Homo sapiens: one gene and its partner. The protein of the gene in region 2 purifies or fractionates together with the protein of the main gene of each other region. This does not show direct contact. Each region holds a gene or a part of one and is shown on either strand. Other genes may lie near its edges. The genes, in order: MARCHF8 and PARL.

Region 1 (3,823 bases), on a different chromosome or scaffold from region 2:
GGACATGACTAGACATTTCTCAAAAAAAGACATGTAAATGACCGACAGCTGCATGAAAAACTGCTCAGCATCCCTAATCATCAGGGAATAACAGATGTTGGTGAGGATGCAGAGAAAAGGGAACTCTTATGTATTGTTGGTGGGAATGCAAATTAGTACAACCAGTATGAAAAATAGTATGGGAATTCCTCAAAAAACTAAAAATAGAACTACTATATAATCCAGCAATCTCACTACAGAGTATTTCCCCAGAGGAAAACAAATTAGTATTATCAAAGAGATATCTGTACTCCCATGTTTATTGTAGCACTGTTCGCAAAAGATATGGAATCAGCCTAAGTGTCCACATCAATGGACAAACAGGTAAAGAATTCGTGACACATATACACAATGAAATACTATTCAGCCATACAAAAAGAATGAAATCATGTCATCTGCAGCAACATGGATGGAGGTCATTAGCCAGACACAGAAAGACAAATATTACATGTTCTCACTCACATGTGGGAGCTATAAAAATTTGATCTCATGGAGGTAGAAAGTAGAATTATAGGTACTAGAGGCTGGGAAGGGTGTGCATGGAGGCAGGAGTGGGGGATAAAGAGAGATTGGTTAATGGGTACAAAAATACAGTTAGATAGTCACAATAAGTTCTAATGTTCAATAACAACAGAGTAGGGTGACTACAGTTAACAATATATTATATACTTCAAAATAACTAGAAGAGAGGTTTAAATTGTTTCTGACACATAGACATGATAAATATTCACAGTGAGGGACACCCCAAATACCCTGACTTGATCATTACATAGTCTATGCATGTAACAAAATATCAGAGGTACCCCATAAATATGTACAAATAAACTAAAAAAAGAAAACCAATCAAATGTGATTTCAGATACTACACAATGATATAAAACTTTGAGTTTGTTCTTTAGAAAATGATTAAGCAAACAGCAGCAAGGGAAGTACATAGGGTGAGGACTGAGTGTGGATGGGGCATCTGGGGAACATCCTCCAGGATGGCTCGTGGGCCCACATGGTCAAGGACCCTGCGGTGAGGTGAAGGTCTGGGCAAGATGCATGGCGATTTCATGGGGGCTGCATTCCAGTGCCCGTCTTTGTATAAAGCATGTCACCTGTGGGACTCAAACTGCCTCAAACTTCTCCAAGCACCCAGTCAATTAAACAGATTTTTTTCCAAGGGGGGACATTCTGCTGCTTCTAAAAATATAAGATTTTCTACACACTGCTATCATTACAAACTGTGATAGGTGCTATGAAGAAAGAGTAACAAAACCCAAATGGGTGATAAAATTTAGACTAAGGGGAGGGTGTCAAGGGTAAGTGCCTCTAAAGAAGCTAAGAACTGAAAGAGAAATGAGTTAGGAATTTTAGCCATTCATGCAAAAAAGGGGTAAGATTGGGAGAGGCCTCTCGGACAGAACAAAAGGTGCGCAAATAGGAATTTGGCTTGTTTGAAAATCATCAAGGTAGACACCATACCTAGATCATCATGACCAAGGGGATATTGCACAGGATCAGGTTCCAAGTGGCCAGGCCCAGGTCACCTTAGATGTGACAGCTCAAGGTAGTGTAATCAGAAACACTGAAGAATTGAAAAGAGAAGCATTAGGAATTCTACTTACTGGCTACTGGGTGCTAGATGGTTTGGGATAGATTCTTGAGAAGCTACTGCAGGAGTTTAGGAGGCCTGGGCCTGGGAAGTGGCTGGGATGATGAAGAGGGATGAACCAATGGGCTGGGTATCAAGTGTCTAGCAGAACAGCATGCAAACATTGACTCAGCATGTACTGACAACCTCCAGGGCTCCATCCCATCACTGGTTCTGCAGATTTAGGGGTAAACAAAGCATGGCTCTACACTCATGAAGGTTACATGTGGGGTGAAGGTGCAATGGAAAAAAATTCATGAAAACCCAGGCAGTGATAAGTGCGATCCTGAAAAATAAAAGGAAAAGGTGACTTTGGACCCCTTAGGATGTTAATTGGAGGTGACAAATTTCATGAAATCCCTTGGTAACAGAGGCTCAACAAATGATATCCATTAACATTGTACTATCAATACAAAATAAGTATTGGGTGAAGACTTTGCCATTGTAATTGCTTAAATATCCCAATATGCTTCTTCTATTAACTCCTTAAGGGGATCAAATCCAGCTGCCCACTTTGAAGAGAGGCAAGCCACCACAGACCTAGCAGCCTCATAAACATCTCATCCAACCTACCTGCTTCCTTCTTTGAAAATGGAGCCTGGTTTTTAAAGTCAATATGCTTCCAATACACACTGAGACACTTTGTAATAAAATCTAGATGGAATACTAGGAGGCATGATTAAAGGTTTATTTTTTACCTCTTTTCAACCTCTAAATTTACGCCAGCAAGAGGTGAACTGCAGAAGCATAAAGCAGACTGCAGTGACTGGCTCATGTGCTGACCCCAGCTGGGGTCTAAAAGTCAGCAGAAAGTCTCCTGACAGAGACAACGGGGATTTCAGGTAGCATACAGTATGTCCACATTGTGGCCTCCTTTAATCTCAAGAGTATGTCTGCTATACTGAAGATACGATTTTACATGTCACGGCCTAAAACTGGCTTCAAACAGCAGGTTCATTTAATAAATACTCCAATAAAAAAACTGTCTTCTCAAAAACAGTTATCTTCCACAGGGGGCCTGCCCTCCCTTCCTTGGTCCCACTGAACTGGTTCATGTCTAACCACCTTATACAGCATGCTAACTATCTTCGTTACAAAAGGGTACACTTTGCAACAGAATTTCACGTTGACAGGTTAACCAGGAAGTTCTGTGAGTAATCAAATGTTCTAAAGGCTCACTCCACTCAGATACTCTCCAATGACCATAGTAAGCATCCCGGAACTCACTGGACACACTAAGTGTCCAGTCGCAAACAGCACACAGTAAAAATGTATTCAAGAAGGGGCCGGGCACGGTGGCTCACGCCTGTAATCCTAGCACTTTGGGAGGCCAAGGCGGGTGGATCAGGAGGTCAGGAGTTTGAGGCCAGCCTGATCAACATAGTGAAACCCTGTCTCTACTAAAAATACAAAAATTAGCTGGGCGTGGTGGCACGCACCTGTAATCCCAGCTACTCAGGAGGCTGAGGCAGGAGAATTGCTTAAATCCAGGAGGCGGAGGTTGCAGTGAGCCAAGATTGCACCACGGCACTCCAGCCTGGGCTACGGAGCGAGACTCTGTCTAAAAAAAAATGTATGCAAGAAGGAAAAAATAATGTATGGTTCTCCATTGTTCAGCAATAAATAATAAAGCTACCATTAAATGAACTGTCCTGGCCCAATCAACCTAAGGTCACCAGGATTCAACGAACTTTGACAAGAGTCAGGTTTGTTGGCTCAGTGTAATGGGTGAGCTGCCCCATGGTTCCATGCAAATGTTAATCCCAAGACTCGGAACAACCCTGAAGGTTGTATTATTACCCTACTTTTTTTTTTTTTTTTTTTTTTGAGACGGAGTTTTGCTCTTGTTGCCTAAGCTGGAGTGCAATGGTGTGATCTTAGCTCACTGCAACCTCCGCCTCCCAGGTTCAAGCGATTCTCCTGCCTCAGCCTCCCAAGCAGCTGGGACTGCAGGTGTGCACCACCACGCCTGGCTATTTTTTTGGAATTTTAGTAAAGATGGGGTTTCATCATGTTGGCCAGGCTGGTCTCAAACTCCTGACCTCAGGTGATCCGCCCGCTTCAGCCTCCCAAATTGCTGCGATTACAGGTGTGAGCCACCACGCCTGGCTTACCCTACTTTTACTGATAACTAAATTAAAGCTCAGA
Region 2 (3,823 bases):
ATGCTCATCCGCTTCTGGGGACCAGCATATGCTGTTTCCCAGCAAGGAAGCCGTTTTTATGTGGTGTCTGAAGTCCTAGAGTGACCAAGGTCAAAATAAATCCTCCTGGCTACCCATGTCTTGATGTATAGTAGAAAGAGCACTAGATTAGGAATTCTGGCTTGGCCACTGAATTTGGCCCTCTGACAACTTGTACCTTTTAGAGCCTGTTTTTCTCATCTATAACTGGCCTTCAGAATAGGGTTTACAAAGAAGAAAGTATGTGCATTTCACTTTTCTTATTTCTTTTAAATTTGTTAAGTGTGTCTTATGAATTTATAGTGGTTCACGTACATAATTTGTTAATAAGTATACATATATGGGATGTGTCTGTTACTAATGGATGGTGTTTACTAATGGGGTGCCCCATGAAAGCAGTTTGATGACCACTGGCTTATGAAGTAAGGGATTTTGGCTACAGTCTGTTTCAGTGCCAGTACTCATTATTTATCAGAAAAGCTTCTTGCGTTTGGATTGAAAACTTAGCAGTGTTAACTCTTTGTCTACTGTTAACCTCAATGTCTTTGGTTATCTTTCCCCCCGCTTTTTTTTTTTTTGAGACAGTTTCCCTCTTGTTGCCCAGGCTGGAGTGCAATGGCGTGATCTCGGCTCACCTCAACCTCCGCCTCCTGGGTTCAAGTGATTCTCCTGCCTCAGCCTCCTGAGTAACCGGGACTACAGGCATGCACCACCACGCCCAGCTAATTTTGTATTTTTAGTAGAGACGAGGTTTCTTCATGTTGGTCAGGCTGGTCTCGAACTCCCGACCTCAGGTGATCCGTCCGCCTCAGCCTCCCAAAGTACTGCTGGGATTACAGACGTGAGCCACCGCACCCGGCCTTTATCTTTCATTTTTTTTCATGTATTTTCCTTTATTTTAATCACTTTATCCAGAAACATATCCTCGTCTTGACAGTGCTGTGGTGCCTGTGGTTTCCAGAAGCTGGGTGTGCTGTGTGTCTGTGGTTTGAGGAAGTTGCCCATGGAACTGACAGAGGAAGCAGAGTAGTCGTTGCCATTTTTCAGCCTAGTAGGCAGGATCAGGGACCCCATCTTGCTCTCTTTGCCTTGAACCACAATTAGAATAAAACACCAAAGCCCTGACTGATCATGATCATAGCAATCCGATCTTTATGATCATGGCCAGACCATTCTCAGGTCGTCTTTACCCTAAGATATCAATCACTGGGTATGACAACCTAGACCTAAGGGTGCACTCTGGGTAGTAAAGATGATTAACTCTCCCAAAGGAATCTAAGGAATCCAGAGCAACACGAATCACTGCTCTCTTCCTATAGGGTAAACCTCCCAAGACTCCAGTCCCTGTGAGGAGGCTCTGCCCGCCTGCCCTTCCCAGGGTTCCAGGCTCCACATTGGGAGGTGTACACAGTGCTCTTCGCTCTTCATTGCCTTGTGTATGATCCCTTTTCCCATCTTTGCATAAATGCTGTCCCTCTCACCATCTTTAAAAGAGTTCTGGGTAATTATTTACCAAAGGTGGTATAATGCTGTCACAGTCCCTGCTAGTGAGACATCTGATACAACTGATGGAATCAGTTCAACAAAATGCAGTAAAATTTTATTTAATGTACTACGGAGAAAGAAAAAATGCTACCAGTTATAAGATGCATCCTGATTTCAGATATTAAAATGGAAAAAATGTCTTAAGATCTGTGAAAAATGTAGCTTCCTTTCCCACCTCTCAAGTGGGAGAGCAAAAACTGGACAGACTAGAAATGCCAGGGGCTAGCTGAGAACCTTACAGAATGAGCAACTGCGGAAGCCACAGGTAACACCGAGATGTAGATCAGCTGCCAGGGACAAGACAAAGAATGTTTTCTAAAGTAAATCCTCTTACCAGTATGTTATTGAAATCAGTCCTTATTGGCATCGAAGAAGGTGAAAGTGCTACTTGCCTGTTGCCTACAGAGACTGGAGGAATGACAAATGTTTATTTTAATTCAACAAGTAGAGGAATACCTGCTATGTGAAGGAGTTGTGGCAATTCATAAAATTAATATATTTTTTGAAGTTTGTAGTTTTCAATAATAATTTCTTATCTAAAATGTAACAAGTTAATTATATTATCGAATAAACCTCAATTTCGTAGTACTAACAACATCAACACTTACAGAAAAAGGAAAGTCACTCAACTCCCACATGTAAACAGACTTTAGAAGCAGTTGCAGAGGTTTTCTAAATTATCCCTGAATTCCTATCACATGACTATTTTTCTCAGACATGTTGACCTTCACCTACACAGATGACTCACATATGTTTCCATAAGCTGGCAGTAAGTTTAAGAAGCATACCATGCCCTGAGGAAAAAGAAGTAATGTTAGCTCTTCTACTCTTGGCCAAAGAACCTAATTCTGTATATTACTTCTGTCTTTGGTTTGGCTATTATAGACAATAAATTATTGATCTGATTATAATTGAGAAAAGTAAGCTCTTCTAAAGAAGTAAAATATGGATCTAGGGAAAGGAAGTTAGCTCCCAGAGCATTTACAATTTCCCAGGAATTCTGTGACTTTACCAACCCTAGGCAGTGCTGATACTTTAAAAGCATTCATTTCACTTGCTTTTTTTTGGCTCACCCCCTATCCCCCAGGTATACAGTACTCTTACATAATTGTGGAAGAATCTTACAAGGGGGTAATGTAGATCAGACTTTCCTGCTTTCATTTTTAACCTCCCTAAATTATAAATATTTATTTTGTAGGTATTATAGCTGCAAATGTCCTTGTATTCTGTTTATGGAGAGTACCTTCTCTGCAGCGGACAATGATCAGATATTTCACATCGAATCCAGCCTCAAGTAAGTCTAACTTGTGTGAATTTATTTTAAGGTAGAAATAATATGAAAGAAATATGCTTTAGTTAATGGAAGTGCTGTAAAAAAGACGAATTACCTATCAATAGCTACAAGCAAAATGCAGAGGATAGGCTGTAAGCTCCTTCACTGAGGACAGGGACCTCACCTCTCTTTTTCTTTTTCTTTGTTTTTTTTGAGACGGAGTCTTCCTCTGTTGCCCAGGCTGGAGTGCAGTGGTGCAGTCTTAGCTCACTACAACCTCCACCTCCCAGGTTCAAGTGATTCTCCTGCCTCAGCCTCCCTAGTAGCTAGGATTACAGGTGCCCGCCACCACACCCAGCTAGTTTTTGTATTTTTAATAGAGACAGGGTTTCACCGTGTTGGATAGGCTGTTCTTGAACACCTGACCTCAGGTGATCTGCCTGGCTCGGCTGGAGTGCAGTGGCGTGATCTCAGCTCACTGCAAGCTCCGCCTCCCGGGTTCATGCCATTCTCCTGCCTCAGCCTCCTGAGTAGCTGGGACTACAGGTGCCCGCCACCACGCCCCGCTAATTTTTTTGTATTTTTAGTAGAGACGGGGTTTCAACATGTTAGCCAGGATGGTCTCGATCTCCTGACCTCGTGATCCGCCCGCCTCAGCCTCCCAAAGTGCTGGGATTATAGGCGTGAGCCACTGCGCCCGGCCAATTTACTTTTTATTTTATTTTATTTTATTTTTTGAGACAGGGTCTTGCTCTGTTGCCCAGGCTAGAGTGCAGTGATACGATCTTGGCTCACTGCAACCTCTGCTTCTCAGGCTCAACTGATCCTCCCACCTCAGCCCCCAGGAGCTGGGACTACAGGTGCATGCCACCATGCCCAGCTAATTTTTTTTGTTTTTAGTGCAGATGAGGTCTTGCCATGTTGCCCAGACTGCTTATTTTTTTCTAATCAACTTTTGCCATAAGGACAAGTTGCTTTCATTGAACT

What was found.
Region 1: the proteins of PARL (region 2) and MARCHF8 purify together in Homo sapiens (affinity purification with western blotting, with the first as the bait; one study listed by BioGRID). This does not show direct contact.

What each region holds. Positions count from the first base shown.
Region 1 is NC_000010.11:45,483,325-45,487,147, forward strand, and holds part of MARCHF8 (E3 ubiquitin-protein ligase MARCHF8), read right to left. Parts: intron 1-3,823. UniProt on the Homo sapiens protein: E3 ubiquitin-protein ligase that plays several important roles in innate immunity and adaptive immunity.
Region 2 is NC_000003.12:183,843,265-183,847,087, reverse strand, and holds part of PARL (presenilin-associated rhomboid-like protein, mitochondrial isoform 1 precursor), read left to right. Parts: intron 1-2,761; coding exon 2,762-2,857; intron 2,858-3,823. UniProt on the Homo sapiens protein: Required for the control of apoptosis during postnatal growth. Essential for proteolytic processing of an antiapoptotic form of OPA1 which prevents the release of mitochondrial cytochrome c in response to intrinsic apoptotic signals.